Homo sapiens: one gene and its partners. The protein of the gene in region 7 purifies or fractionates together with the protein of the main gene of each other region. This does not show direct contact. Each region holds a gene or a part of one and is shown on either strand. Other genes may lie near its edges. The genes, in order: ASPHD2, USP30, FNDC3A, RAB3B, PANX1, CDS1 and GRPR.

The links.
Region 1: the proteins of GRPR (region 7) and ASPHD2 purify together in Homo sapiens (affinity purification with mass spectrometry; 2 studies listed by BioGRID and IntAct, with this or other methods). This does not show direct contact.
Region 2: the proteins of GRPR (region 7) and USP30 purify together in Homo sapiens (affinity purification with mass spectrometry; 2 studies listed by BioGRID and IntAct, with this or other methods). This does not show direct contact.
Region 3: the proteins of GRPR (region 7) and FNDC3A purify together in Homo sapiens (affinity purification with mass spectrometry; 2 studies listed by BioGRID and IntAct, with this or other methods). This does not show direct contact.
Region 4: the proteins of GRPR (region 7) and RAB3B purify together in Homo sapiens (affinity purification with mass spectrometry; 2 studies listed by BioGRID and IntAct, with this or other methods). This does not show direct contact.
Region 5: the proteins of GRPR (region 7) and PANX1 purify together in Homo sapiens (affinity purification with mass spectrometry; 2 studies listed by BioGRID and IntAct, with this or other methods). This does not show direct contact.
Region 6: the proteins of GRPR (region 7) and CDS1 purify together in Homo sapiens (affinity purification with mass spectrometry; 2 studies listed by BioGRID and IntAct, with this or other methods). This does not show direct contact.

The regions. Positions count from the first base shown.
Region 1 is NC_000022.11:26,442,158-26,446,301, reverse strand, and holds the end of ASPHD2 (aspartate beta-hydroxylase domain-containing protein 2), read right to left. Parts: intron 3,844-4,144; coding exon 3,730-3,843; intron 3,206-3,729; coding exon 3,096-3,205; 3' UTR 1,621-3,095; coding exon of another isoform or gene 1,608-1,620; 3' UTR 1,287-1,607; downstream 1-1,286. UniProt on the Homo sapiens protein: May function as 2-oxoglutarate-dependent dioxygenase.
Region 2 is NC_000012.12:109,083,061-109,086,550, forward strand, and holds part of USP30 (ubiquitin carboxyl-terminal hydrolase 30), read left to right. Parts: coding exon 1-2; coding exon of another isoform or gene 3-113; intron 114-1,892; coding exon 1,893-2,013; intron 2,014-2,606; coding exon 2,607-2,871; 3' UTR 2,872-3,490. UniProt on the Homo sapiens protein: Deubiquitinating enzyme tethered to the mitochondrial outer membrane that acts as a key inhibitor of mitophagy by counteracting the action of parkin (PRKN): hydrolyzes ubiquitin attached by parkin on target proteins, such as RHOT1/MIRO1 and TOMM20, thereby blocking parkin's ability to drive mitophagy.
Region 3 is NC_000013.11:49,195,606-49,200,121, reverse strand, and holds part of FNDC3A (fibronectin type-III domain-containing protein 3A), read right to left. Parts: intron 3,246-4,516; coding exon 3,132-3,245; intron 2,398-3,131; coding exon 2,248-2,397; intron 2,141-2,247; coding exon 1,857-2,140; intron 1,761-1,856; coding exon 1,548-1,760; intron 1-1,547. UniProt on the Homo sapiens protein: Mediates spermatid-Sertoli adhesion during spermatogenesis.
Region 4 is NC_000001.11:51,906,810-51,911,070, forward strand, and holds the end of RAB3B (ras-related protein Rab-3B), read right to left. Parts: 3' UTR 1,147-4,261; downstream 1-1,146. UniProt on the Homo sapiens protein: The small GTPases Rab are key regulators of intracellular membrane trafficking, from the formation of transport vesicles to their fusion with membranes.
Region 5 is NC_000011.10:94,131,531-94,136,046, reverse strand, and holds part of PANX1 (pannexin-1), read right to left. Parts: intron 1-4,516. UniProt on the Homo sapiens protein: Ion channel involved in a variety of physiological functions such as blood pressure regulation, apoptotic cell clearance and oogenesis.
Region 6 is NC_000004.12:84,645,060-84,649,575, reverse strand, and holds part of CDS1 (phosphatidate cytidylyltransferase 1), read right to left. Parts: intron 4,355-4,516; coding exon 4,251-4,354; intron 1,020-4,250; coding exon 890-1,019; 3' UTR 1-889. UniProt on the Homo sapiens protein: Catalyzes the conversion of phosphatidic acid (PA) to CDP-diacylglycerol (CDP-DAG), an essential intermediate in the synthesis of phosphatidylglycerol, cardiolipin and phosphatidylinositol.
Region 7 is NC_000023.11:16,121,734-16,126,681, reverse strand, and holds the start of GRPR (gastrin-releasing peptide receptor), read right to left. Parts: upstream 3,118-4,948; 5' UTR 2,729-3,117; coding exon 2,316-2,728; intron 1-2,315. UniProt on the Homo sapiens protein: Receptor for gastrin-releasing peptide (GRP). Signals via association with G proteins that activate a phosphatidylinositol-calcium second messenger system, resulting in Akt phosphorylation. Contributes to the regulation of food intake.

The DNA of each region.
Region 1 (4,144 bases), on a different chromosome or scaffold from region 7:
CAGGTGCCTGGGAGAAAGGGTTTGGGATCAGAAGACCTGGGGTGTGACCTTCTACAAATAGTAATTGGTCTGGCCTTGAGTACATGGGAACAGAGGGAGCTTGAGGCCAGTCCAGCCTGTCTCGGGTGGAAGGCAGGATTCCCATTTGCAGCCGGCTGGCTCCCCTTTCTCACCTTGAGCCTCCAGAGCTACAACACGTAAATTAGCTTAGCAATGCCTAGCTGGCAATGCACACTTGAGGAGGGTGAGAAACATCGCGATCCCAGGTGAGTGGCGCTCTTCCCTTCCGCTTGTTGTGGCAGCCCAGCCCGGACAGCTGGCTGGAACCTCGCTTGCAGGTGGAAACATGCGGCAGCCCGGCTGCTTCTAGGGCTCCTGGCTGGGAGACCCCCCTGTCTCCCTCTCTTCTAAAGGGAAAAACATGAAAAACACAGCTACTGAGGGACATGTTTCTTCCTCTGTGATTAGACACAGGCAATTGAAAGTAGCCACTGGCTTCTCTGGCCACACCCACTGCTGTCCCGATGTGTTTTCCCATCTCTTCCATTTGGCGGCCTTCCTCTTCACCTGTTTCTCTACTCAGCTGTGGCAGAAAGGGAAACAAGGTTGTTGAGTGCCCTTCATGTGCCAGATACTGCACATACCCACAGAGGAGAAACTGAGGCTATGAGAGGCTAAGGGACTTGCCCAAGGTCCCGAGGGTGCAAACTCCTGGCACGGAGTCCTAAATCCTCAGCTTTTCTGAAGCCAGGGTCCTTGTTCTTCTTTGCCCAGTTAGACATCTATTGCTCCTTAACATATCCTAGATGTGCTCTTGTCCCCACCCCACTAGTCCCATTGCTTTGGGACATTTTGCTTCATTCACTATCCACGATCAATTCTAGTGACCCGCCTGTCTCTGTGACATCACTCAAAACACAAGAGCCTCAAAGTCACTTGCCCCCTTCTGCCTAGCAAGTCTTTTTTTTTGGACAGGGTCTTGTTCTGTCGTCTTGGCTGGAGTGCACTGGCGCGACCTAGGCTCACTGCAGCCCCCGCCTCCCAGGTTCAAGTGATCCTCCCACCTCAGCCTCTCAAATAGCTGGGACTACAGGTGTGCACCACCACACTCAGCTAGTTTGTTTGTTTGGTAGAGACAACGCCTCACTATATTACTCAGGCTGGTCTCAAACTCCTTGGCTCAAGCAATCCTCCCCGCTCAGCTTCCCAAAGTGCTAGGATTACAGGCGTGAGCCACCGAGCCTGGCCTAAGTCTTTCTTTACAACAGATGACCTCACCACTTCACTCTGGTTTTCAGCAAGATCCTTTATTTATCTTCTGTTCCCCAGACATGTCACATGAATGCAGGTAGCTAGGTACCTGCGCGGGCTGTTGGTTTTGTAAACGCAGAGCAGAGCAGTCACGATGTGTAGAAATCATGCACCTCAGTGATTCTTTAACAAGATAATGAGTAAAAAGACTTCAGGTATGTTTGAAATGTCTGCCTTTTCCTGCATTCTCATCACTGACAAATATCTGTGTAGACATTTTACTCAAATGTAGACGTGCTCTTTGCACACTTGCTAGTACCTGCCTGGTGCATTTCAACTGTGTTTTCTTCCAACAGTTGTACCTCTTAGAAGCTGCTGTTTTCCATTTGGATCTAAACACTGGACCTGCACCTGCGACCAGCTGTATATTCCAAACCACTCCTCGGCTTTATAAATCTGACACTGCTCATAATACATTATTCAGAAAAGGCATCTCTAGTGTGGCTGGCCGGCTACGCTTTCACACATCAGCTAACACAGGCTATTTCTAGAGTGAGTGCCTCAAACTGGTCTCCTGGGACCTTTTCCTTCGGGAAGAGATCCACATGTTCTTCACAGGAGACCAGAAAACCAGCACAACGGCCACGGGTCCTCTGGGCATGTAGGTCTTCTCTGTCTCCTCACTAGCACACACTGGCTTGGGTCATTGTCACGCAGTGCACACCTTTGTGCCATGACAAAGACACAGGGCCAACTCTTCCACTATCTCCAAGTCTAGTGTTTGAACATTTATGTACAGACAAATAAATGAAAAAAAAAAAAACATAGGCAACAGAACTCCAAAGCAAAACAGAAACTTTGGTCAGATCTATTATTCCAGTTTTGCCAGAGAAAGGCTTTCCCCAAATGTCGCTGGGTGAGCGCGGTCCTATCCCCCTACAGCTCCTATCAGCCAACCTGGTGGCCTTAACGTTCATCACTGTGGACTCAAAACACCTAAAACTGGGAATTTTCCAGGCCCAGTTTGGCAGTAGGGCTTCTGTAGGCAGTGAGGTAAGCGGATCACACGTTCCGTGGCTGATCTGTGTGAGCCGCAGCTTGGTGCTGGGGGACACCAGCTTCAGCTTTGCAGGAAAGCCATGTTTAAAGAGTAGCCTCCAGTCCTACTGGCCCAATGCTTTTGCCATCAGGGACCTGACAAGGTTTAGAATGAGGTGAGCGATGGTGACAGTATCCCTGGGCCTGGACACTGTGTGCCACCCTGACTGTGTCTGGCAGCCCCTCCACCTGGCTACTGAAGCCAGTCAGGTGTGGGGGCTGCAGACTGTCCCCCTGCCGTCAGGTGGCTGAAGGGTCCCCAGTGTGCCAGCATCAGAGGCCAAGTTCTCTAGCTCTCTGGTTTGCAGTTTTTAGTTTTTTTTTTTTTTTTTTAAGATGACCACAAGAAGTTTTACATTATTATATTCAGACAAATAACCATTTAGTTACTCTATTTCAGAGCACTGAAAAAAACAAGTAGCAACAGAAGACAGACTTACAAGGGCACTAAGTCTCTGGTCACTCAAGGACCAATCAAAGGAATGCGCTGTTAGGCCAGAAAGGAGTCTCTGAAGCAAATGATTGGAAGGAAAAAAAAAAAATCTAAGGAAATACAAGCCGAAAAGTTTCCATTTACAATAACCAAGGGAAAGAGGGACCCGACATGATATAAAATCCCAAATAAGAGCTTTCCGCTGAGGCAGGTTTCTGAGCATGGAAACAACACCGGTAGGGACTGGACCGGACCACAGTCTGCCCAGGCCCCGCCTCGGCCCTTCTCGCCGACTCCAGCATGGGAAATACTCTCATCGTCCCGGAGCAAAGATGAAATCAAGAGCCTGCCGTTCGGCCGCTGCGACGTTTGGATGCCACAAATCCACCATGAAAACCACCCGTGGGCCATCCTCTGCTGAACCTGGGGGGGAAGGAGGGGTGAGAGGACAGGTTCAAACCACCCTGGAGTCAGGACCCAGGATCCAGGCAGGGCTGGACCCTACGTGCTCAGCTTCGGGGCAGGGACCCCATCCTGTCCCTCGGCTCGGATCGGACCACCTCCTCTCTCACTGAGAGCATAAACCTGGCTTCATGGGCTTCTGAGCAGGGTGGACAAAAGGAAATGGGGAGATGGAGGGATCTTTAAGTGGGAATTTTTACGGCAGTGAAACTATTCTGTATGATACTGTCATGGTAGGTCCGTGTCATTATCCATTTGGCGAAACCCACAGAATGGATGGACAACACCAAGAGTGAACCTTAATGTCAACCATGAACTTTAGGTAATAATAACGCATCAATACTGTGTGTGTATATGTGTTATGGGGTGATATGAAGGGGCCTCCTTGGTACTTTCTGCCTGATTTTTCTGGAAACCTAAAACTTCTCTAAAAAAATAAAAGTCTATTCATTGAAAAAAAGGAAGTGGGAAAGGCAGCCACTCACCTTCATGGAACGCAGCATGCAGGAAAGAGTCATCAAAGAGAAGGCAGCGCCCTTCTGCCCAGCACTGGGGCTCTCCCCCCACCACCAGCTCACAGCCATTTGGAGTTTTCAGACCTTGTAGGAAAACCAGAGAAAGGAGAGTGAAGGCAGGCAAGATTCAGGGAAGGCCAGGAGATAGGGGGTGATTTGCCTTACTGAGAGTTTTTGACTTCTAAAGCACCTGACCTGCCTCACACCTCTGGAGCCCGTGCTATGGTCTGAAGGCTTGTGGGCTTGTGTCCCTGCAAATTCCCATGTTGAAACCTGACCCCAAGGTGATGGTGTTAGGAGGTGGGGCCTTTGGAAAGTGATCAGATCATGAAGGTGGGGTCCTAATGGGAGCAGCATCCTTATAAAACAGGCCCAAGGGAGCTTC
Region 2 (3,490 bases), on a different chromosome or scaffold from region 7:
AGGTGTGTGCGCGCGAGGAGCCGATGCAGCAGGAATTTTCAGCACAGAGAAAAGCAGTTTGGCATCACCACCTTCTGGGTCCCTTATGACAGGAGCACAAGGCTTGTACAATGGTGCTTAAACTCTTGAGAACAGCAGGATTGGGGGTGGAAGAGGGAAGATTTCTTAGAAGAGGTTAAAATTATGTAGCAGTGAGATGTATCGTTTTTGAAACCATATTACAGATGAAAAAGTACAGAGAGAAACGCTTAAAATTGCAGCTTTGCCTTCTAATTTTTCCGCTAAATGATATAATCATTGGCTCACATCATTCCAGTGAATTTCTTTTTTCGGTCATGTCATTTCCTGTCAGTAGAGGAAATGTAGGGAGGACATGTCCTGGCTAAAGATCACTGAGCCTCTTCTGGGGGTTGAAATGCCTTCTGTACTGAATTATGTATCTGATTCCATTACTGCCCTCAGCTGAGGTCTCATTTAAGCCGGGTAGCTATTATCGCCGGTCTTACTGATAAGAACATGGAGGCTCCACGGGGTTGAATGATTGGTCCAAGGGCAAACACCACACAGGAGAACTGGCCCTAGAATGCCATGTTGGGCCATTTTCTAAAGGTGTCTCATGTGACACACTGAGTTCTTTAGAGTTAGACATGAGGAAAACCCACTCACTTGAAGGGCTCACAGCCTGAACTCACCACCTGTCTGCTGCCCCCAGTTAGGTCAGGATTGTCTCACACCCCATACTTTCCTATTTAGGGTCCCTTACTCCTTTTGTTCTTTTTATGACCACAGTTGCATGGCCCGACACCTCATCATGTCAGGGAGATTGTGTTTTCCTCTTTCTCATCAAGTCACTAGATTAACATCGAAAAGAGATGAGGTAGGGGACAGACTCTGGTTCAGTCCTTGGCCCTGGTTTTAAATCAAAGACCTCTGCACCCCAGCTTCCCCATCTCCTGGGCTGGGGTGCAGGTTTACTAATGTTGAGAGCATGCTGGCTGTGGTTAAAGATGCCAGCAGTAGGGCCACTCGTGGTGGCTCACACCTGCAATCCCAGCACTTTGGGAGATTGAGGTGGGAGGATTGCCTGAACCCAGATGTTTGAGGCTGCAGTGAGCTGTGATCACACCACTGTGCTCCAGCCTGGGCAACAGAGCAAGATCCTGTCTAAAACACACACAAAAAATGTCATCAGGAAACTACTTGGTACATAACAGCCCCCAAAAATGACACTTGAAAGGAAAAGACATGTAAATATGGCCTTAATTATGTTGTCTACCCATAAACATGTATGAATGCTATTACACGTTGGTATTCCTTAGAAGCTGACAGAATTAAAGCAAATAGAATGCTTAGATCAGTGGTTCTCAACTTGGAGGAGTTTTGCCTCCCAAGGGACATTGGGCAGTGTCTGGTAACATTTTTGGTTATCACTACTGGGGGAGGGGTGCTACTGGTGTCTAGTGGGTAGAGGCCAGGGATGCTGTTCAACATCCTCTAATGCACAGGACAGCCCCCGCAACAAAGAATGATCCAGCCAAAACCATCATGGTGCTGCTGTTGAGAAACCTTGGTTTAGGTCAAAAGCCAGTAAATTAGCTACTGATTAACTTTGATACATGGCATTAGCAAACAGGGCTAGGAAGCTCAAAGATCCCAGGCTAGCCGTAAAGCTGGAGCTAGATACACTTTTCCTATTTGGGATTAAGACAGATTATCCCTATTTGAGATTAAGGATAAAGGGCAGATTATTTTATGAATCTATATAATACCAAATGAAATAGATTTTTTTCTTTGTAGCATTATGGGGAGTTAACTTTCAAGGTAATCAAAACCAGGTTTTGTTTACAGAGCCACTGCTAATTTTCATTGACTCGGGCCTTTTTCTCTTGCAGTTCTGAATCAGCCAGGGGCCCCCAAAACACAGATTTTTATGAATGGCGCCTGCTCCCCATCTTTATTGCCAACGCTGTCAGCGCCGATGCCCTTCCCTCTCCCAGTTGTTCCCGACTACAGGTGAGCCACCCTTTACAAGCCCCATCTTAGAGCTACCACTGCTCTTAGCTTCTAAAATTAGCTTTTCACAGAAATGAATTAAGGAAAATATAGATGTTTATTTTTCATTTTAAGGTGAAGTTTCACGATTACACATTCCTATTTATTTTTGTCCAAAATGGAAATAACTTTTAAATTAAAAATTTTTAAAGTACATAAAATTTACATATGCATATGTATGTGTGTATATATGTGTGTATGTATAAAATATAAAGAAAATTTAAAATTTCTTGGGATACCATCTAGAGATAGCCAATTAAACACTTAGGGTCATGCACTCTATAAAGTTGTACATCACACATACATATAGTGTACATAAACACATACACTCATTGATACAAACATCCACATATACACAATATACATATACTCATAGAATGTACATCTTGCCATGCCAGTAAATACAGATCTGTATTTTAATAGTTGTGTAGCATTTGGTGGTATGGACTTACCATTGTATTCATCCCCTATTTAACATTAGCATTCTTTTGTTTTTGCCTATAAAGTCTTTTTGTTAAAATTGTAAACCCCTGACATGTGTTCGTATCATTCAGCTCCTCCACATACCTCTTCCGGCTGATGGCAGTTGTCGTCCACCATGGAGACATGCACTCTGGACACTTTGTCACTTACCGACGGTCCCCACCTTCTGCCAGGAACCCTCTCTCAACTAGCAATCAGTGGCTGTGGGTCTCCGATGACACTGTCCGCAAGGCCAGCCTGCAGGAGGTCCTGTCCTCCAGCGCCTACCTGCTGTTCTACGAGCGCGTCCTTTCCAGGATGCAGCACCAGAGCCAGGAGTGCAAGTCTGAAGAATGACTGTGCCCTCCTGCAAGGCTAGAGCTGATGGCACTGTCTGCACTGTCCAGGAAAAAAGTAAAACTGTACTGTTGCGTGTGCAAGCGGCCCCACTAGAGCCTTCCAGCCTTCTGGTGTGTTCTAAGAGCAGGCTCCACCTGGGAGCCAGCCCCAGTTCACACCAAACCAGGCTCCCTGAACAGTCCTGTTCATGTGTGTAGGTGGTTCTGTTGTGTTAAGAAAGCATTCATTATGTCCGGAGTGTCTTTTTACTCATCTGATACAGGTAATTAAAAGAACTCAGATTCTTGAAGCCACCGTTTTCATATTGTAATGTTAGGTGTTCTCAGAGGGGAGGTACCTTTGTCTAATCAACGTTTCCACTTAGATCTTTTATTTTTAATAAGCAGGCCCATAAAAATTGTTGACAAGAATTAATGAAATTATTAAAGGCAACAATTTAGAAGAAAAAGTGCCTTTCACTTTCGATTGCTTTTGTAGCACGTCCATTGTGAAATATTCCTTCCAGGCTACTCAAAGGATAGCAAGAGAACAGGTAAATGATGCCTAAAGAACACCTTCCTTTTTCTATGCCTTTTCTAATCTTTCAATTCTTTCTATGGAGTAAAGGCTCATCTGC
Region 3 (4,516 bases), on a different chromosome or scaffold from region 7:
TTCAGTGAAAAGTAGAAAAGCAAAATTCAAAATTCTTAAAATATTAAAGGATTAACAGCTGTGGGAGGTATGTGGCATTGCTTATATGGAATATAATGTGAATAAATAGCCCTAGTTGGCATTAGAATGACTGTTACAAATATTCAGAGTTAACACTGTAATTAAAATACATGATTTAGTGTGGCAGTATATGGCACATTATATAGGAATAGTACAACATGTACATGAAGATGTGAAAGAGGCACAGAAAGAACCTGAATGAAATTAGGTTCTTTCTAATTCAAAGATTAGCAAAGATTAGCAACAGTGATTAGCAAAGGGACTAGATAATTAATCACAGAATCTAACTGAGATCACACAGTGAAAAACTGAACTGTATTCATTTAGCGTGCAGGCCCTGTGTCAGGAATCTGGAAAAGACTGAAACATAATCTCTGCCCTCAAGGATCTCAGAGGCCAGGAACGATCATAATCATTTACTATAAAATTGTTTCAGGGCCGGGTGCAGTGGCTCACGCCTGTAATCCCAGCACTTTGGGAGGTCGAGGCAGGTGGATCGGGAGGTCAGGAGATGGAGACCATCCTGGCCAACATGGTGAAACTCCGCCTCTACTAAAATACAAAAAATTAGCCGGGCGTGGTGGTGCGCACCTGTAGTCCCAGCTACTTGGGAGGCTGAGGCAGGGGAATTGTTTGAACCTGAGAGGCGGAGATTGCAGTGAGCCGAGATCGCGTCACTGCACTCCAGCCTGGTGAGAGTGAGACTCCGTCTCAAAAAAAAAAAAAAAAAAAATTGTTTCGGTCAGGCACAGTGGCTCATGAGTTGTAATCTCAGCACTCAGTGAGGCTGAGCGGGGAGGACCACTTGAGCCCAGGAGTTCGAGACCAGTGTGAGCGACATGGTGAAACCCCATCTCTACTAAAAATACAAAAATTAGCCAGGTGTAGTGGCCCACGCCTGTGGTCACAGATACTTGGGGAGCTGAGGTGGGAGGATGGCTCCAGCCCTGGAGGCAGAGGTTGCAATGAGCCAAGATAGTGCCACTGGAGGCCAGCCTGGGTGACAGAGCAAGACCTTGTCTTAAAAAAAAAAAATTGTGTCCTGCTAGAAATAAACACTGAAGAGTTTATTTTGTATCTAAGATTAGGTGTCTTTTACTATCATGAAAACAGTAAATGGATTACAGAAAACAACCAAACAGTAGCCCACTTATTTTTTTCTCTTGGTATTCCACTCACAAATTATAAACAGGAAATGTACATTGTGTTTTCTAACGTTTTAAAAACAGCACACTTTTGTATGACAATCTTGACTTCGTTTTTGAAAACTTACTTCATTAAAATAAATTTTTTTTAGAGACAAGGTCTCACTGTCTTGCCCAGGCTGGTCTTGCACTCCTGGGCTCAAGCAATTCGCCTGCCTCAGCCTCCCAAAGTGCTGAGATTACAGGTGTCAGCCACCACACCTGGCCTACTTCTAATAGTTACAGAAATGTATATACTTAAGACCTAAGAAACTATATAAAGAAGCAATTAAAAAAACCTACCGTCCATTCTTATCCTCCATCTGAAGGTGGTACTGAATAGAATCGGTTGACAATGTCTTTGGAGTTCCTTCTCCCCATTTCAGCTTAAGGTTCTGGTGGCTAAAGGCAACACATTCCAGACGAGGTGGATCAGGAGGGAGAGGCTTAGTTTTTAATTTTATCATATGGCTGAAAGGACCAGCTCCAAGGCTATTCAAGGCTTGAATTCGTATTCTAAGTGCCACATAAGAAAAAAAGTTTGGTTATGATTGTTTTATTTAAAGCGTCTCTCTGGTCTAGGCAAAAATCAACATAATTTTTAGAGTATACCTGTATGTTGTATCTGGTTGCAAATTGTTGATAATATAGCTTGTAACCTTTCCCACTGTTAGGGATTGTTTATCTCCAAAGTCTATGCTGTAGGCAAGGATTTCCGAACCATGATCACAAGGCTTTTCCCAGCTTATTGCAAGGCATGTAGAAGGTGAATAATGGGGATTTTCTATCTCATCATCGCTTATTTCTTGAAGACAGGTCACAATGCCAGGAACTGATGGTGGAGTCACACAGGCTACTACTTCACTGAAAGGGCCTGCACCCACAACACTCAGAGCCTACAAATTAACAGAGCCTCCGAGTTAACAAAGTCATGACCATGAAAATGCCAATGAAATATAAAACTCTGGATAGAGTTAAGTGACAAGGTACTGATCATCTTTACCTGGACCCTGCAATAATAGGTAGTTGCTGGTGAAAGTCCTTTTATTTCATAACTGAGACCAGGCCCACAGTAACATATCTGCATACTTCCTTCAACTCCTCCCCACTCCAGTCGATATTCAGTGACATCTGTTCCATTACTCAAAGGAACCTTTAAATTAAGAAAAGGATAAAGGTCTTAGTCTTGATGTTGATTAAATAGCTTTTGGCCAAAAATGCTCTTTACCTGAGCACATGTAAAACTAGATTGCTTTTGAGTTTCTTTAAAACTTTTAAGCACAATCAAAACTGTTCAATTTTACATTTTTTATTCATTAAGATTATCTGAATTTAAGATTGGTCAAATATATAACTGTTTTGAATTAGAAGTAGAAATATGACTAAGTCACTTTAGAAAGAGTGTTTTAAGGTAAATATGTTTCAAGATAATTCTATTAATATGAAATGTTAAAAGCATACACACATTTTGTTAAATTTCAAAGGGAACTGAAAATATAATAATTATCATCACTGATTATTACTATCCACAATAAGTACACTGGAGATGTGTACTGGATAAATATAAGAGAAATAGAATTTACTAATTCCTGTGTATGTCTATTCTGAACATTAAACTTACAGTGGCTGAAATATCTCAGTACTGAGACAAAGCCATTCATAAAAATACAAAGCACATAATGAACAGGAATCTAAATATTTGTAATGCAAATATACCTTACTCAAATTCTTCAAAGAGGAAAAAGAAGTCACTGTTTTTCATGTGAATTAAACTAGGGCTTACTCTGTATAATATAGGCGGTAAAAATGAACAGTATCTTTATTCTTTTATATAAACTATTCTATTCACTTAAGAAAGTAGATACAAGTCAATGGAAATTACAATACCTCCCAATTCACTTGTGCACAAGTTGCAGATCTACATGTCACTTGAGGGGGCTTGCACTGATCTGGTGGCCCAGGGGCTGTAGTAATATCACATTTTTCTGAAAATGGTCCAAACTAGAAAAACAAATGTAACTAGTGTTTTTATTTTTCACCCTTAAATGTCCACTGATTGCACAGAACTGCATATTTAAAGATTCATTAATAAAGTCTTTTCCCTGTGTTTCAAGATTAATTTGGTCATAATTCTATAAGTATTCACATTAACTAAAAAGACTTAAAAATCATGAAAGTAAAGGTGTGAGAAATTTTAAAGTTTCATTTACCTATACTTTCTTCTGCCCCTTATTTCTTCAGGAAATGGTTTTTGTAAGAAGGGCAGGACATTAGGGAATGAGGTCGGTGGAATAATTCAGGAGAAATATAAGGAGTGAAGAAATTGATACTAATTAAAGGTACGGGAGATGGTAGGTGTAAATTATTATTTTTAATTTTTTAATACTTCACGAATCTTTCTTAGGCATATTCCATATCAAATTTTACCAACATTCTGTTCTATAAATTTGTTTATTTTGTAACAGAATTTGATTTTTCTGTTCCATGCTAAAAAGCTCACTTTCTCATAATTACTTTTAACATACATTACCCGGAATATAAAAAATTTTATTCAGTATTGGCAAATTCCTTCCCCGACACATAGGAGAACAATTACAGAAATTTCTTGTCATCAATTTTTCAAAGCTCATTAGCAAAAGAAAAGCCCCAATACACTGGTATTTTCACTTAACAGTGGCGCATCATTATAATGGTCAGAAGTAAACCTACTTGTTACTGCACTGTATCAGGCAGTTTTGCCAAATGCCCATCTTTAAGAGCTAGCTCAACTTCTTTTTTTTTTTTTTTTTTTTTTTTTGAGACAAGGTCTGGCTGGCTCCATCACCTAGACTGCAGGAGTGCAGTGGTGCAAACATGGCTCACTGCACCCTCGACTTCCTGGGCTCAAGCCATCCTCCCACCTCAGCCTCCTGAGTAGCTGGGACTACGGGTGTGCACTACCATGCTGGGCTAATTTTTCTACTTTTTACAGAGACAGGGTTTCACCATGTTGCCCAGGCTGGTCTCAGACTCCTGGGCACAAGTGGTCCTCCTGTCTCAGAGGGAGGACTGCTTGAGCCAAAGTGCTGGGATTACAGGCATGAGCCACTGGGCCCAGCCAGCTACGAAAACTCTAAGAAACTCAACTTCTCAGAAAATTCTATGGAAACATTCAGTTGTTAACAAATATTTAATATTAAAATTATTCCAAGTTATTTATTTTTAATTTAGGAAAAAACATGTATTAATCACCAATAAAAATGTTAATAAATAACGACTTACCAAAGGGTAGG
Region 4 (4,261 bases), on a different chromosome or scaffold from region 7:
CCAAAAAAGAAAGAGAGGAAAGAAAAGAAAGAAAAGGAAGAAAGGGAAGGAAAGGAAGGAAGGGAAGGGAAGGAAGGAAGGAAGGAAGGAATTCCAATCTCTGAATGCATCTCTGACACCTCCGTTATCTCTGCTCTGTGCTTCCAAAGCTCTGTGTCCTCCCTGGCCCACCAGGGTCTCCATGCCTGAGTCCTGGCAGATGAGTAGGAGTTAACTAGGCTAAGAAAGGGGAAAGGTTTCCTAGCACATCATGGTGGAGATAGGTGTAAAATTGGACTGAATATCCCGCCTACTTAGACTCATTAAACTTTTTGAGGAGAGGTGGGGGTAGGGAGCAGGTTCTGCCCCTTCCTGGGGCTGCCAGTTCTGTCTACATTTGGTTTCATTTTCCTGTGGGCTCTCTACTTTCCAGCTCAGCAGCTTTGTTCCCACGTGCCATCCAGCAGTGTATCTTAAATCTCTGCTATGAGCTAACACTGAGCTAAGCTGCTGGGAGGCACACATTGCCCCTTGTTATTCTCTGCAACCTCTACACCACCTAGCACAGAGCCACAGCCCAGCAGGTCTCCAGAAGTGCACACTAATAGGCATTCCCTGACCTCTTGCAATGTCAGTCCTTCCTTCACCATGAAGCCTTCCCTGACTGTTGTAGTCCATCCTGATCTCCCCCTTTCCTGAGTCCATCATGAGCTATTGCATCATATTGTGTCTTTTGTTGCACTGGTGCTGGACCTGTTTCCCAGTTCCTCTTAAAGATTTCTGAATGCAAGAATCTGTACCCAAAGTTCTTTTTTTTTTTTTTTTTGAGACAGAGTATCACTCTGTCACCCAGGCTGGAGTGCAGTGGAGCGATCTCGGCTCACTGCAACCTCTGCCTCCTGGGTTCAAGCAATTCTCCTGCCTCTGCCTCCCCAGTTGAGCTGGGATTTACAGGTGCCCACCACCACATCTGGCTAATTTTTGTATTTTTAGTAGAGATGGGATTTTGCCATGTTGGCCAGACTGGTCTTGAACTCCTGACTTCAAGTGATCCACTTGCCTTGGCCTCCCAAAGTGCTGGGATTACAGGCATGAGCCACTGCGCCCAGCCTCCTCTGCCCAAAGTTCTTAGCACAAACTCAGGAAAGAGTCACTCTACAAATGATACACAATTCAGAAGAACTTTAATGCATATACCATCATTGCCACTATAATAGAGATAGAAGATACATTAAGAAAATTCAGTTTGTATCAATAAAACAGATCAACACAGAACAAGGAAACACCATAGATATTTGTAAATGAGATCTTCTCTTTTGCTACTGTGTATATATATTCCTTTATATTTATACAAACTCACAACACATGACATTTCATATTTCATATGCCACTGAGAAGAGGTGTCAGTATACAGAACATAGGAAGAAGAAAAAAGCATGAGAACATCTGCTTAGTTAGAATCTGATGAGGAGAGACGTGAGAGCTATTGTTCCTCTCTCTGCTCAGGCCTATCGAGAGGCAACTGCAGTTTTTGCTAATTGTTCCTCCTGAGGAATTCTGCTCATACTGCTATGGTACATCTCCTAGGTTGGCATGAGACCAGCCTGGTCCCCAGTTGAATAAATTAGAAAGAGCAGTTGGGGGAATTGAATATGATATGCAAATTGCATAAGGTGACATCTCTCTGTGTGGCCACAGAGATAGATCATCTGCTCCTGGCTCCTTGATCTGAGGGAAGCCTCTGCTGTTCAACCTGCTCCAGGGTTTAATTCTGTTGGGGTTGTGGGGCTGACAACAATGTGTTCCTTTCCTTCCTTCTCTCCCACAAGCAGAGGAAGTCATACGTAGACAAAACAGATGTTTAGGTTTTCTCTTCAGCAGGCTTCCTCTTGTTCCCCTCTATCACCCCCAGATAGGTGAAGTTCAGAATTAGGACTGCCCACTGCGGGGGGAACAGACCCTCCCCTGTTCTGAGACTAACCCTGCCATTTACTGCCTTCTCTATGTAGTCTTGGATAGGTTGCTTCACTGATGCAGGCCTCAGTCTTCCTCATCTGTACTGGAAATAATAAAACCCACATCACAGTGTTGTGTCAAAGATCATCAGGGCATGGATGGGAAAGTGCTTTGGGAACTGTAAAGTGCCTAACACATGATCGATGATTTTTGTTATAATATTTGAATCACGGTGCATACAAACTCTCCTGCCTGCTCCTCCTGGGCCCCAGCCCCAGCCCCATCACAGCTCACTGCTCTGTTCATCCAGGCCCAGCATGTAGTGGCTGATTCTTCTTGGCTGCTTTTAGCCTCCAGAAGTTTCTCTGAAGCCAACCAAACCTCTAGGTGTAAGGCATGCTGGCCCTGGTATTTCTAGATGAGGTTAGGTTCCTGGGACAGGAGTGTGTATTGAGGTGGAGGGAAGGAGCTGAAAGAAGGAGGGGATCCTTGGAAAGGGCTCTGAGAGGGGTGTATTCGTTTCATTCTGAGACGAATACCATCTATCCCCCTAGACTCTCACAGTGGCTCCACCTTAAATGTCCACAGCATTTCACTTTCTAAAATGTACTTTTATTTGACTCTCATAACTATTTTGTGAAGTAGGGAAGATTGTCAGCCTCATTAGGTGAAAATATGTTGGTTCAAGATCACACAGTTAGTATGCTGCAAAGTCAGGACTCAAACCCAGGTCTCTGGAATCCTGGTTTTCTGAATGTCGGAGGGCACCTCTAACAAAGGCTCTGGAGCACTCTAAACTCTCATTCTGGGCTCATTCCTCACTCCTGGAGGCTGATTTCTGGGGGAAGGAGGAAGTGCATGAGGTACCTTTCTGTCACATGACTGGTGGCAGACCCTACTTTAACCCAGCCCAACAAGGTCATGCTACAGAGCTGCTCATGGCATTTTCCTGGACTCTCCTCCCTTGGTCCTGACTGGATTCTTCTACCCTGATCCACTTAGTAAGTTCAAGCTCCATCTCCTACTTACACAATGCCCCTTCTCTTGCTCCTTTGCTCATGGTGTTTACACTGGCTTTCTCCAGTCTCTGGTTCTCAGTCCCCTTACAAAGATCCTGGATTAGATTTGCCTGCCTAGCTCTGCCTGATTGGGATTACACATTGTGTAGTGCCAACATCACACGTTCGGCATCTACTGTGTGTGCACGGCACTGCACTAAGGGTTTTACACCCATTCTCCATTTAATCCTTTCAACAGCCTTGTGAAGTAGATAGTATTACTTCATTTACATATGAAGTAACTGAGGCTCACTGAGGCTCCGGGAGTCATCTTCCCGAAGTCACAAAACTAGTGATGAAGACCCAAGAACTGAACCCAGGTCTGTCAGACTGTAAGCCCTGTAGGCTTAACTATTCTGCCTTATGACCTTCTGAAACCTCATCCTGTGGTCTGATGTCTACAGGGGTTGGAAGATAGTTTACTACATGAAATCCTTTAGTTTCCAGGCTTTTAGCTGCATGGCAGAGTTTGTCCTGAGAAAGATCTTGCCCAGCTCAGCCTGGCACACACGGGTCCATAAATTAAGTCCTCCTTGAGGTGGAATGCATTTCTGGCACATAAACATGGCTGCCTGGTGTCTCTTTTCAAACAAATGGGACTGTGCTCTATTCTCAACAAGTGTCAGAGATTCTTGTTTCTCTTCCTCTTGTTACTCTTTAGGAACCTCCAGCCTAGAATAGTCAGGCATGGACCATCCAAACACAAATTGCTAAGATGCTTTCTGGCAGCCTCAGAAACCAGGACCATACGCCTGGCTAAGTGATGAGGGGGTCACACAGCCTTGGCTCTTTTCACTGTACCCGAAAAGAAAGGAAGCTTTAGTAATGAAAGGATTGCTGCCAAAATCCTGTTTCCCCCTTGCAGATCTTACAGAAAACAGCCACAGAATCCCAAGGCATCAGCACCAAGAGAGCCTGTAGAAACTATCTGGTCTAAGCTCCTGAAGCCCAGAGATAAGAATGACTTAACCCAAGCTGCACAGCCTCTTAACAGTCCACTGTTAACCCCAGAAACAGATGCATTTGAATCTGAAAGGAGACAGGAATCCTAATCCTACTGCTCAGGGACTTGCTGATTTACTTTGCTGTCTATTAGCCTTTCTGTGACATGATTTTCTACCAAGCAAAGTCTTTTATTCAAGTCTCCCAGAGATTTCCTATTTAAGCGTTTGCTATTTGGCCACTTAAAAAAGACAGAAGAGAAGTAAACAGAAGCATATACCACACAACTCAGTCCAGTCAGTAGTTGACTCTCAAGATGGCGGATG
Region 5 (4,516 bases), on a different chromosome or scaffold from region 7:
CTTTATGTGTGAGTAGAAATTTTGAAAGAAAGTAAATGTCCATCATTAGGGGACTGCTTAGATGAATTGTAAGTATATTCTAAGCTATGGAATACTGTTCTATTATAAAACAGTGAGGTGACACCTATGTACTGGCACGGAAAGCTCTCCAAACATACTAAGTGAGAAAAAGCAAGCCACTATGGTATGACTCGATTTGTTTTAAAAAATAAAATAAGGTGTACACGTTATGCTAATGCAGACAAAGTACAGCAATAAGGCTGCACAAAGTGTCCACCTACCTTCAGCACATAGTGAAAGAGATTTATGAATCCTTTACCATGATGATGTATTTAGCTACTACTTGTACAAGAAAAATATTAACAAAGTAAAACATGTATCCAACAGTAGACTCTCTGGACAGCATGCATCCTTCTGGAGGGGTTAGGAGTCTCTCTTGGCTCTTTGGTTTAGTGTGAGTTGAAGATGTTCTATTATAGGACCTATGCCATGAGACCCTAAATATTGGCCCACTCTGATAGACAACCCTGAAAAGAATCGATCTGCTTTGCCAGCTGGTACATGCTAAAAAGCAGCCTGAAGATATTCCCAAAGACAGGTCTAAATTCAGCCACAACAGAGCAGATAACTTAAGCCACCCAGCCGCTGACTCAGTTGCAGGAAATGAAAGGGGAACTCCAAGCAAACTATATTGGAAGCAGCTGCAGTTATATCTATCCTTTGACTCACTGGGGCTGGCCCAATGCCTGCCCTGTAATGATAGCAAAAGAGCAGTGCTAACTCAGAAAGACTAAGTCCTTCTCTACCCAGAACGGTGGCTGCCCACTAAGAGGTCAGTGGGTGAGGGAGGCAGGGTCCCCGGCTGACCAGACACCCTTTCCCTAGTAGACTACTGGCTGCCCCAGCTCCCCACCTGGTCCAGCCAGCCAGAAACATCCTGGCAGGAGACACGGGCTCTCCTTCCCAGGGGATATGTGCCACATGAGGCACCAGGGAATCAAAGCAGCCCCTGACGCCTCAGGCCTTGTACAGCCCTAAGCGCAGGGCACAGGAGGCCCTGTCAAAAGACCCCTTAAACATGAATCCCATTCAGAGTCTGGTCTGTTGATAGTTTTGTCTTCAACCAGGCTGCTGTAAGAAAATCCCACAGACTGGGTGGCTTAAACAACAGTTATTTTCTCACAGCCTGGGAAGTTCAAGATCAAGGTACCAGCAGATTCGGTGTCTGGTGAGAGCTCTTTTCCTAGTTTGCAGATGGCCCCCTTCTCCCAGCGTGCTCACACACCTTTCCTTGTGGCCGCACTTGTGGAGAGAGGAAGAGGGAAGAAGAGAGGAAGGGGGGTAGTGGGAGAGAGAGGGAAAGAGGGAGAGAAGGAGGAAGAGGGAGGGGGGAGAGGAAGAGGGAGGGGGGAGAGAAAGAGGGATTTCTTCTTTTTCTAAGGGCATCCCATCATGAAGGTCCCACTCTCATAATCTCATCCAAACCTAATTACCTCCCAAAGGGATCTCCAATTAGCATCACATTGGGGATCAGGACTTCGACATATGAATTTTGCGGTTGGGAGACACAAACATTCAGTCCATAACTGCAGCACACTAAGGGAATTCATAACTTTAGAGAAATACTTCTAGAATTTCAGAGCTTGAAGGTCACGTCATGCAATCATGCTTATATTCTACACAAAGCTGTCGCCCAGCCATTTCCTAAACCTCTCCCCCCATCAATGAAATGTGCAGCACTTCTAGAGGCATCTGAGAGTAGATGTGTTAGAAATGAAGGGCCTCAAGGCACTGTCTCCCAGCAGCTTGCACAAGGTGACACCCATAGGGTACCCAAGCCACACAGATCACACTCATCCTTCTTCCACAGTACACCATTCTGCACTCTGAACACAGATTCTTCCTCATCACAAAAATAACATAAAAAAGAATCTGAGGCACACGCAATATAACCTGAGCTTATAAATCAAGTGGGACAACTTACCTATCATGACGATGTGCATCCTTTACTGCTATCATCAGAGGCAGGTGTCTGGGAGGTGGCCAGGACAGGCCTGACCCAGGACAGCACTTGTATCATTAAATGGCACTCAGAGGGCGCACTTCCAAGCAACTGGGACCCTTATCCAGAACACTCCGTCCATTCCCTCAGCACAGCCACTCTGGGAGAGTTCCCTAGTGTGCTCTGGCACTTCCTTCACTAAATTCCTATGGAGCACTTGTTGAGGGCAAGACATGGTAGAAGACAAGAGGAAGGAAAAATGAGGGCTGGTGAAACCACTGATTCTCCCTTCTCTGGCTCCCACCACACAGCCTTTCTAGCCCAAACTCACAATTAAACTGTCTTTTGCTGTGTGTCACTTATTTTCCCCCTACCCAGCTGAATCTCAGAGGAGGCACACCTGCAGTATTTTAGAAAGGCTGACTAGAAGTATCAGGCCTAACCAGACAGGTGCACATTTTAGTTCTTACATTCAATCCTTAGTATCTCACTGTCCAAAAGCCTTCAAAATGCTCCCAGGCACAACTCAGAAGAGTCTCCTTGCCACTCCCTCAGGAGGGTTTCTGCTTGTAATTCTCACTATCACAGGGCACATCTGGACCAATGAGTGGCTGCCGCAAAGACTACCAAAGTTGCCTCCACCTTGACCATGGCACCAGCCTTGCCATGCCCCTCCAGACCACATCACTTCTGCAGTGACCCTCAACCTGTGATTGTGGGCAGCCAGACCAAGATCTGGTGAATGAGCAAGGCAGAGTCCCTTCTGCTCTCTGTCCCCAACACAGTCCCCACCAGCCCAGGTAGCCCCACACCAGTGCCTACCATGCAGGACCTGCGTGAACTGCTGTGGGAGGGAAGGGGCCAGAACCTCTGAGGAGTGGACGCTTCACCTGCAGCCACCATGCTGGCACCCAGCAGGGCTTGATAAAGATCAGCCTGCTGCTATGCCCATGGGTCTCTGTGGCCCAGGCAGGCTCAGTCCCTCTTTTCTGAGAGGAGCCCAGTGGGCTGAACTACTAAGAGAAAAGGCCAAAGACCAAACGGAAGCCTTTAATATGAAGCCAAGTATTTTATCATATGAGGACATTCCCTCTCTCTAACCTACAACACTCCCACCCCCACAGAGAACCTGCTCTTAAATCTAAAGCACAATCCATGCACATTTCTTGATTTAATAGATTTTCTTTAAAGTAAAAAATCATTTATTTAAAGGAAAAATCGCCACAAAGTTTCAACTTGAACCCTATTTTATCAAACAACAGTTGACAGAAAATTTAATTTTTGGAAAGTAACTGGAAAATATAATTTATTTTACGCTTGAGGGGATTTTATATCAAAAGAGATGAATTCTTATATATACTAGTTTATCATACAGGTGGAAAAAGGAAAAACATGTAATTACAGCTGATTTTCTCGTTTCTAATTTTATACACACACACACCACCCCCCCAACACAAACAGGAAAACAATGGGATTTGCTATGCCTTCTTTCATGTGGAGCCCCTGGACCCTTACTTTGGCTCCCACCTCTCCATGTGACGGTGCCACTAAAGCTCCAGCAGCCACATGTTGTCTCACACGTCTCAGCTTCAGCCAACACTGCTCCACACACTTGGAATCCTGCCTCAGGGGCCAACTCTGCCCTGAAACTCTCACTGTTCATGAGTCAGAAGAAACCCCTCCTTCTGCCTTTCCACAGCATCAGGCTTTAGTACACACTTCTGACACTGCCCAGGTTCCATGAATCCTGCATTAGGAGGGTTATGCGTTCAACTTCTCTACTAGACCGTGCTTCCAGAGGAAAGATTCTTATGTCCTACGTGTGTCTGACACCCCATTGCCAAGGTACAGCATCATGCACATAACAATCAATTAGCAAGGTCTGATGATGCCAAAAGCTATCACCTTTAATTCACAACAAATGTTTATAGAGTAGTTTCAATCTCCATGCAAAACATGCATAGACAGGTTATAAAGCTCTGTGTTAAGTTCAACAAAAGAGTATTCCAAGCACCAGAGAGGGAAGCAGTAATTATCAACAGAGGAAGGATGAAGCCATGTTTTAAGTCTGCAGGCCTTATCTCAGTGTCTTCCCGGGGCCTGAGTTCACTGGCCAATATGGTGGGCAAAGTGCCAGCTCCATTTCAATTACTTCATTCTCCCTTTATTGCTGTTCTTTTTTTTGGTTTGTTTTTGGCTGAGTGCATACTACTAACTACACAAAATTAAATGCTGCATGACATGATCCCTCCCACTGTACCAACTCCATGTATTAATCTATGTACCTCTCCCCTCTTCTCAAAAGCCCTTCTTCTGGTTTTATCTAAATGTATACCTAATCTAATAGGTCTTCCCTGGTCCTGTTAGCTTCATCCCACATGTCTGTCCTCCCCTGGAACTCCTGAAAACACTTCAGAAAACATGGGAGTCTGCTTGACAGCTCCTCACCCAAGTGCCTGCCAACCTTCACCAGCCTGGAGCTCATAGCTCAACACCTGGCTGGGTGCTGAATTA
Region 6 (4,516 bases), on a different chromosome or scaffold from region 7:
CTCACTACCCTACAGAACCATGGAAGCCAGTTCACAGGGAAACAGGGAAAAGTGAAGCACATGACGAAGAGATGGCCCAGGCCACAGGTCACCGTTTGAAGCTGCCTCCTGAGCTACTGTCCTCTGTTGAGATAATATGCGGAGGATCCGTACACTGTGTTCTTCACAGCAGAATTCTTCCTTGTTGCTCTTGAAAAGTTTTTGCGAGGTCGTGACCTTCCAAACAATTTTATCAGAAGTAGTCTGATGCCTGCTCTTTCTAACAAACCAATCATGGCAAAAATTTCAGGCTCCCTCCCCTGAATTTTGAAACTACCTAAAAGCAGAATGTTTTCCCCTGGCAAATGGTTACTTCTTTGAAAAGTAGACAATCTTTTTTTTTTTTTTTTAAATCCAACTAAGCCCTTTAGAAAGTACTCCAGACTACATGAGGAGGAAGTGCAGGAGAACTGACTTCCTATTGTGCCTTGCATAAAACATTTTGCTAAAATTAAAAGCAGCTCCAAGTGCAAAAGTAAATATTTGTGCAAAAAGGCACACTGCCAGGTGCAATCTTAAAACATCGTCAACTTACTCATTTTATAGTGTTTGACTCTTTTAAATACCAGTCTTTTAAATTATGAAACCTAGCAAGTAAGGGGAAGGAAGTTCACATCAGAAAATACACTTTAGAAAAGGTACAAGACATTTTGCTGGCAATTTGCTACTTATTTCATAACATAGATCAAGTAAGTGTTTGTTAAATATTCACAGTAATTTCAGAGAGAAACATATCTCCAAAACTTCAACCTATTGCATTTTTAACTATTTTTCTGTACAATTTATAAAACATCTGTCAGTGTTTTTCTGAATAATTCCTTCTTGTCAGTCCTTCCCTCTCTGGATCCAGTTATACCTTCAAGGTGGGTTGTAGGATTCCTTTCTCAATGAGATGAGTCTTCAGGGTTTTATATATATTTAACTGCTGTTCAGGTTGAAGCACCAACAACTGCTGTAGCACTTTGCTGGGATTTGGGCCCCTAATGATAAAAGGCAAAGAAGACAAGTTCGTGTTATTTTAATAGGGATAAGTGAAGCACATACCTCCAATTTAAAACAAACCATTCCTTTAAGTGTAGAGTAGGAATCTTTACAGAATTAAAATAGCTCTTGATAATAGCTCACTTTAATGTGCAATGTTAGTGTCAAGGGTTACAGCAGAGAGGGAGAAAGAATGCACAAACACAAAACACAAGAGCAATGTAAGTCAATTGAAGGGGTGCAGATCTAAGTTCTACAAAAGCTCTTGAAAGGGCAACCAAAGTTAAAGGTGGGGATAAATGGCAAATCTTGAGATTGAATGAGACACAAAAACTATTCTGTAAGGAAAGGAGCCTGGTGAACATAGGACAAACCAAAAAGAGGGCATGAAAATATAATTGAAATTTTTAACTTCCAAGAAACTTCAGATGATGAAAGGTATTTTGTTGAAAAATATCTCCAGGGAGTTATGAATATTCAGAGTCAGAACACAAAAGTCCTGAGCCTAGCACTGAAGCCCCTTACCAGTGATACAGGTGCCGTGGACTTTGTTCAAAGACAGTCCTAGGTGAACTCCAATATAAAAAACAAAATAAAAGCAGATCTGCTTTAAAATCCAATGGGAAAAAGCAACATACAAGTCATGTATAGAGATGGCATAGAATTCTAAGAAAGACATTTATGTGGGTAAATAATGTATGCCTTACAGTAAAGATTGTTCACATTGAATTATAGAAAGTAGAAATCCCAGCAACAAAGAAATGTTTGCTATTTAGTGTTACCACAATGAGGATGAGCAGAGGAACTATTTACTCTGAAAATCTTTGACTTAACAAATTGCACAAGAGCCCAGATGAGCCATCCCACCAAGGGTCATCTTCATGCACGTGGCTCAACTCATCTGCCAAAAAACTTTCACACTCAGGTCAGGACACTGTTCGCCTTATTTCATTTCTTTAAAAGAGTCAGCAACTTCACAGCATAAACCCCAAGTAGAGACCAACAGAGAAAAGGAAGGCTGCTTTAGCAAGTTCAGCTAAATGCAAAATTGTGTCAGCAGGTGCTCCCAGCTAGCTGCATCCTGGCACTCTCAGTGTCTTCTAACAGTCTAAATAGCTGCTTTCAAATGGTGGACAACATGGCTCAGCATGACACCTCCCTACTGAGAGGACAGCATTTTTTTTTTAAAGAAAGCATATGAGTTAATGCCCTAAAAAGCTGCCATATTCTGAAAACAAAGTTTTAAGGATTTAACCACTAATTACTAATACCCAAATAGATCAATAAATAATATGCAAATAAGTTAAATAGTCCCATTAAAAGGATAAAGATTATCAACTGTCTTATAAATAAAACAGGGAAAAAAATCAGCTATATGCTTACTAGAAAAAAGAAACACATTAAATATAAGGAAAAGGGAATGTTAAAAATAAAAGGAGAGACAAAGAAATAACATGCAAACACTGACCAAAAGAAAGCTGATATTGCTATTTTAATATTCAACACAGTACGCTTTAAGGCAAGCAGTAAAGACAGACATTATATAATGACAAAAGGATCAATTCAATGGAGAGATATGACAATCCTAAATTTGTACATACCTAATACAACCTCAAAATATATAAACCAAAAATTGGTAGAACTACAAATAAAAAAATACATTTACAATCACAATGAGAGACTTTAACAAAGCTCTCTTAGTAACTGATAGAACAAGCGGACCAAACAAACACAAAAACAAATAAACAAAAATCAGTACAGAAGATTTAATTAAACCTCACCTAACTGACACAGACAAAACTACAACCCAAAACTACAGAATACACCTTTGCCCATGGAGCATGTACTAGAATAGATAACATGCTGTACCACAGAATAGATCTCAAAAATTATAAAATACTCAAATCATAGAGTATGTTTTCCGACCACAGTGGAATTAAGGGAGGAAAGTGAAAAAATCTCCATTTGTTTGAAAACTAATGAATATGCTTCTAAATAACCCATGTGTTAAAGAAGATATAATACTGGAAATCAGAAAACATGTAAATAATGAAAATACAAATATCACAACTTGCAGGAAGAGGATAAAGTGATACTTAATAGTCTTCAATGGATAAATTAGATAAGAAGGCTAAAAATCAATAATCTAAGCTTATCTCCAGAATTAAAAAAAGAACAGCATATTGAACATTTAAAAAAGGCAGAGAAATGAAAGATGAGAGGAGAAATCAATGAGGTAAAAAATTTACAGTAGAGAAAATTAACAAAGCCTGGAGTTGATATTTTTGAAAAGATTAATGAAATTGATAAACTCGCTATCAGGACTGTCTCTCAAAAATAGTTAATATAAAAATTCTCACACTACTGTGGTACATATTTAAAATGTGTATTTAGGGATTGCTAAATATGAATTTCCTTCCAAGTACTATGAAGGAAATCCATGTTTTCTACAGCTCAGGTACTATTAATAAGCATTCTGCCTTCTGGGCCCCCAGTAGAGACCACAGAAAATAAAGTTAACATGCAGTTGATGTTAAGCCTTCACACTCACACTGGTATTTCAAGGCAGATCCAAAACATTAAGGTTTAATAACAAGAATAAACCACCCTTTCTAAAATGGCAATATTCATCCACCCATCCACCAGCCAGCCCCTACACACACAGGCATGATCCCCTCGGCCTGCTTTATTTTTCTGTGTGACACTTACAACCATCTAACAAACTATATTTATTTGTTTATTGTCTCTTTCTCATCATTCTTTCTTCAACTTCCAAACAAGTAGCTATGGGGGCAGAGATTTGGTTTGTTTTGTTCTCTGCCATATTTGTCCCTAGAACATTCTACAATATGGCAGGCACTCAAGTAATAATTGGTAGACTGGATGCATTTCGTTATCTCCCTTTTTAACTCTTAGTATTCATGATCATTGCAATGCCCACAGTTGAGAAATCAAATCTCCTCAAGTTTCAAATCCTATACCATCCACATTAATTGGGTCTTCAATGTGGTCCAGGACCATGACAAATACTATCTTTTTTTAAGTTGTTCAAATGTAGGTAAAACAATTACAAGTTAACCATCTTGCTCAAGACTCTAATTCCAGGGGCCACCATTCACTTTAATATTGTAGATTACCATTGACGGAAAAAGTTAACTTACTCAAACTAATGTTGATGGAAATGAGAACTCAAAGAAATCATCTAAAAAATGTCTCAAGTGTAAAAGTACCTTATAAAACTTGTGATGTACACATGTACAAAAGTTGCCATCAAATACTGACAATCAAATCTGTCCATTATCCCACCATGTCCAGGAATGGTATTTGCAAAATCCTTTAGAAACAAACAAATATATTAGCAAATTTTCAAAAAATCACCTGCTATAAAATTCCTATCTGTGTCTCTTTGGCGTCATGGACTCACTCTAACGAAAATACATTACTATTGGATTTTTTTCACTAAATAAAAACTTATTAGAACACATCCAGCAGATTA
Region 7 (4,948 bases):
ATTTATATGAGATTAAAGAACTGGCAAAAATAACCTATGGTGATTGGAATCAGAATAGTGATTGCCTCTGTATGGGGGTATTAACTAGGAAAGGGCATAAGAGAAACTCTGGGGGATGCTGGAACTGTTCTATATCTCCATCTGGTTATGCAGTTCTATAGACATATGTAAAAATATATTGAGCTGTTACTTGTTCAGTTTACTGTGTATATGGATTACACCTTGTTGAGAAGAAAAAATAATATAGAATATATATTTGCCCTGCCAACCTCAGAGATATAAGATAGAAGAATCCCATTGTTTTCAAAAATGAGATGAATAGAAAAAAAGTACAGTCTTAATCATTTAGCTCAATACCTATTCTTTCTATTGGAATTGGTTAGATGCACTACCTGTGATTCAGGTGATCCATCAGCTTTTTAAAGACTTAGCAAAACACAAAAAGTTAGCTATATGGGAGCTTCTAGTAATTTCTGAACTTGGCAAGGACAGGCAGTAACTATAAACTTACTGGGAACACACTGGAGCCGCGAAGGAGTGCAACCTGGCTTTTGAAAGAGCTTTCCCTTTCTGTTGATGGTGAACTTGGTCTGCTTTGAAACTCCAGAGAAGAGTTCCCTGCAGCTGCATCTTTACAGTTCATGCCCTCACTTTCCTTTCTGTTTTTCTCCCTAAGAAGAGAGTAAACACCATCTGTACCACTGCACTCACCAACCCGGAAACCAAAATCTCTCCTTCCCATTAAGAAAATTACCCTCATCCTGAAGAGCCCTCGGCCATTGGTAACAAGCCACAGCCCTTCTGCCAGCTCCAGAGTTTGCCAGCCCTGAATCAATACATGAAACTGTCTGTGGTCATTGGTATCTGTGGGCAGATGTGCAGGGGAGGATGTGCAAGCCGAAGGGGAATGGAGGGAATGGAGAAACTCTGTCCAGTCGGTACAATGTGCAAACCTTACTTCTGTGCTATTACTTTTCAGACTTTGAAAATGTCGTGTGCTGGGCAGTGTGCTTCAGGTAGCTAAGCATAAACACATGTCTATAAATACTGATAACACTATCTTTATTTGTCCATTACTCAACAAAGCCAGATCACCTGAGGACTGTTTGTTCCTCTACAAAATGAGAATCCAGCACCACATGTATTAAAATGTGGGACATTTTCTTCGGAGTATAAACTTTCAAGAGCAGCATCTATGTCTTTTCCAGAACACTCTCAAATCCTTCTGTATCTTTAACACATAACATACAGTTGATTATAAGTGAAAAATTTATAGTCTAGGTTCATTGCAGCAGTTTTTCTGGGTTTGACCATATGGTCTATGCTGTGTCTGAAAGTCTATTCATTACTATGTCCAATTTCCAGAACACAGAAGTACATAAAGTATGTTCAGTAATTTATGTGAACAACCTGCAGCTATTTCTTGACTTGCTAATTCAGGTAAGTGTTTCTTACATGCTAGACACTTGATAAATGTTCAAAGAATGAATATATAGTTTTAAGACTGAATAAACGTAAACTTTTATGCAATGTGCTCACACAAGAAATGCAGTTTGCAAATATGTATATTTCCCAGAATAAAAAACTGTAGTGAACTCCCTCTTCCTCCCCACAATAAGCCCCAAAAGCATGGTATATGAAGTATTGTCAATAAAGATATTAAAATTAGAAATCAACCTTGAATAGAGCTTTCTCCAGAAAATTTTAAAAACTCAAATAATGTTTGATTTCATTTAAGAGAGACTTAGGAAAACCGGCATACAATTGTTCTATCACAGAGAGTCAAATTCAAAATCAGCTGTGAGAAAAGTTAAACTGTCTGAGGAAAATGAATTTCAGAGAAATGAGGCTTATTTTCTCCTCTTGGTTATTTCTGAAAGAACGTTTTGAAGAAATCCAGTGGAACTTTCCTGTTCTCTGAGGGGTTTCAATTGCTCCTAAAAAACATTTGCCTGAGGTTTAAACTCTATTGGGTGTGATTGTCTTTCTCACTGGTCAATTAATTTTGCAAGGAGGGAGAAGTTAGGAAAAGGCAATGCTAAATAGATATGTCTCCAGAAAAAGGCACCTCAGTTTTCTGCTTAGAGATTTTTTTTTTCTCATCTGTCTCCTTCTGTCCCCATCATTCACTTTTCTTTCTTAAACCAATATGTTACACTCAAGAAGTCATACCCAGAATAAAAACCTGCCTGGAAGGGAATCCGTGTTTGAGTAAAACTTCCCTTGTGCAATCAGCTCCCTGTCCCGACATGGTAGTTCATTTACCCAGGCGTCTATCACCCTTGGAGAGCATGTAACTTTCAGCCTGTACTTACCTGTCTGCCGAGAGCGCCGTGAGTGTGAAGACAGACACCCCAACAGAGGTAAGCTGTATAAAGGGGATCAGTTTGCAGCCAATCCTGCCAAATAGCCATCTGTCAGCCAGGTACCTGCTGGCATCCACTGGAGCACACGTTATTAGGAGGAGCAGGTCTCCCAAAGCCAGACTGGAAATGAACAGGTTTGGAACGTTTCGCATGGACTTGACTGTACAGAAGATCTTGATCAAAGTGATGTTGCCAATGAGGCCTATCAGAATGATAACCCCATAAACTGCAGGGATGACATAGAGGATCCCCGGGTGGGACCAGTCATCGTTCACGGGGAGATCCGCACTGTGACTGGAGATGTTGCAGTGCATGAAATGGTCCACCTCCAAGTTCAGAAGGAAACAGTCATTTAGAGCCATCTCTAGATTTTTTTTCCCACCTAAAAGTTCCCTTAGATGCTATTTCTTAACTATTGATTTTGCAACCGAGTGAAGATGAAGATAAGATCTATGCCGGGCTCTTTGCCTTCTTTAATAAAAATACTCTGAGTACATATATACTAACTATGGTATTCAAAACTCTCTGTCACTATTTTGACACTGGTGCTGCTCTGGCTTTCACATGACCAGTGCAATACAACTCTAAATTCAATAAGTTAACAACAACAAAACTTAGCCACAAAAAGGCTTAGAATTAAACCCACTCTGCATCAGTTCTTTCTACCTCCATTCTAGTCTGAGTCTCCCTGGCTGCAGTTTACTAAGAACTTTTGGCCTGCTATTTTCCCACAGCGTCTTTCCTGATATTTAGAATCTGGAGGTTTAAAGTGGGTAGAAAAAAACTGCACTGAGAAATCCTCAAATCCTATAGGCAGGATGCTTTGCACGTCACGGGCTTCACCAGCAAACGGCAGCTCCGCTGAGCTGAGGCTCTGAAGAGGAACCAGTGTTACTTATAGACAGAGAATGCCAGCCCCCTGCTGGACACTTCAATCACTGCCCAGTTGCCTGCTTTCTCCAGATGAGAAGCAACCAGCCGACTGCAGTTCCTACCTAGCTTAACAGATACCTTTGGCTTCTCATGTAAGCACATAGCACCTAGGGTAGGTATTTAATAAATGTTGCTAGCATTCTGCAAAGGCACTGAAAATCTTTCTGATACTATCCCCATGAATCCAGATGGGGATTTACATCCCATTTTCTCATTTTTTCTAATTCATTAGAATGACATGTCAATATTGCTATCAAATGAGGTCTGTCTTTGAATTAAACGCACACTGATGCACAGGGTGTCCATGTGTGAGTTATCCCACTCAGTCTTCCCACTGCCTCTTTGAACAGGGACTGATCCTCAGAAACACATGCACAGACTCACACCTTAAACCTTCAGCAACTGACATCTGGAAAAGCCAGAAGCACAATGCACACATGTTCTTTCCTGTAGATTTGCCAAGCCATTCCTATTCTGTTTACCAGGGAGAAATTAAATTGGGAACCAGCTGTATTCTTAACTCTCAATGATCAATAGTCTTTTCCAGAAAAATGGGTCTTTTCTCATCTGATCTAAAAATTTTATGAATCGGCATTTTGATGCAGCTATTTGCATTTTTAATTGAATGTTTGCCATGTTTTATAGCAAATATCCTCTTTATAGCCCTGTGTGGAAAATAAAGAACTATAAAAGCGTGATAGATACAATACTGAGGAATTGAGTGGGTGGTAAAAGAAGTAAGTTATCGTTGAAGGAGTGCTAGAAAAAGCTTAATTGAGGAAGTGCTATTAGAATCAGGCTTAGACCTTTAGCCAACAACTTCTAAATACATTATTAGAGTGCATCTTTATGACGTATGTGAAGCCAGCTCCTCCAGGTACATGACGTGAAGCCAGTCACTAACAGGTGAAGTCTCATTTTTCAGAACCCATAAGGAATAACAAAACTTGCACTTACCATGCCAGGGCCCACAAAGAAAGCCCCCAACTGTGTTGTTATGGACATTTCCAGTGGCAGGTTCCAACACTGAGGCTGCTGCCATGCTTTCTATGTAAATATGAAAGGCTCAGCGCCCCTCTCTGCCAGCAGGAGGGAGACTGATGCTGCATGGCTAGAGGTGGAAGAGCTTCTCGGCAGAGATCAGTAGCACCAGTAACCAGCCAATAGCCATGAGCCCAGTGGTGTTGATTAGTTGCCAGCAATATAGCTTAATGATACAGTACACAGGCTCTGCTTCAATCCTGGCTCCCTCATTTATAATTATGGCAAGTTACTTAGTGTCTTAAGCTTCAGGTTCCTCATCTGCAGGGTGAGGAGAACTTATGAAGTTAGATGAAATGATTCATGTTAAGATTGCATAGTATTTGGCACATAGTAAGTGCTCAATTAATATTAGCACTTATTATTATTATCATTATTAGATTGAGGGGGAAAGGCTTACTTTGGAAAAGCCCAATGAGTTCAGAAGAGTGATTGACCTCAGATCAATAGGCAAGCACTCATACGAGTGAATTAGCAACTCCTTTATTTACTTGAAAAAAATTTATCAAACATCTACCAGTTGCCAGGCACTGAGCAAGAGGCTGAGAAAAATAGCATGAAGATGTGTACTCTCACAGCTCTTTAGACCCCAACCCCTCTCTGGAGTG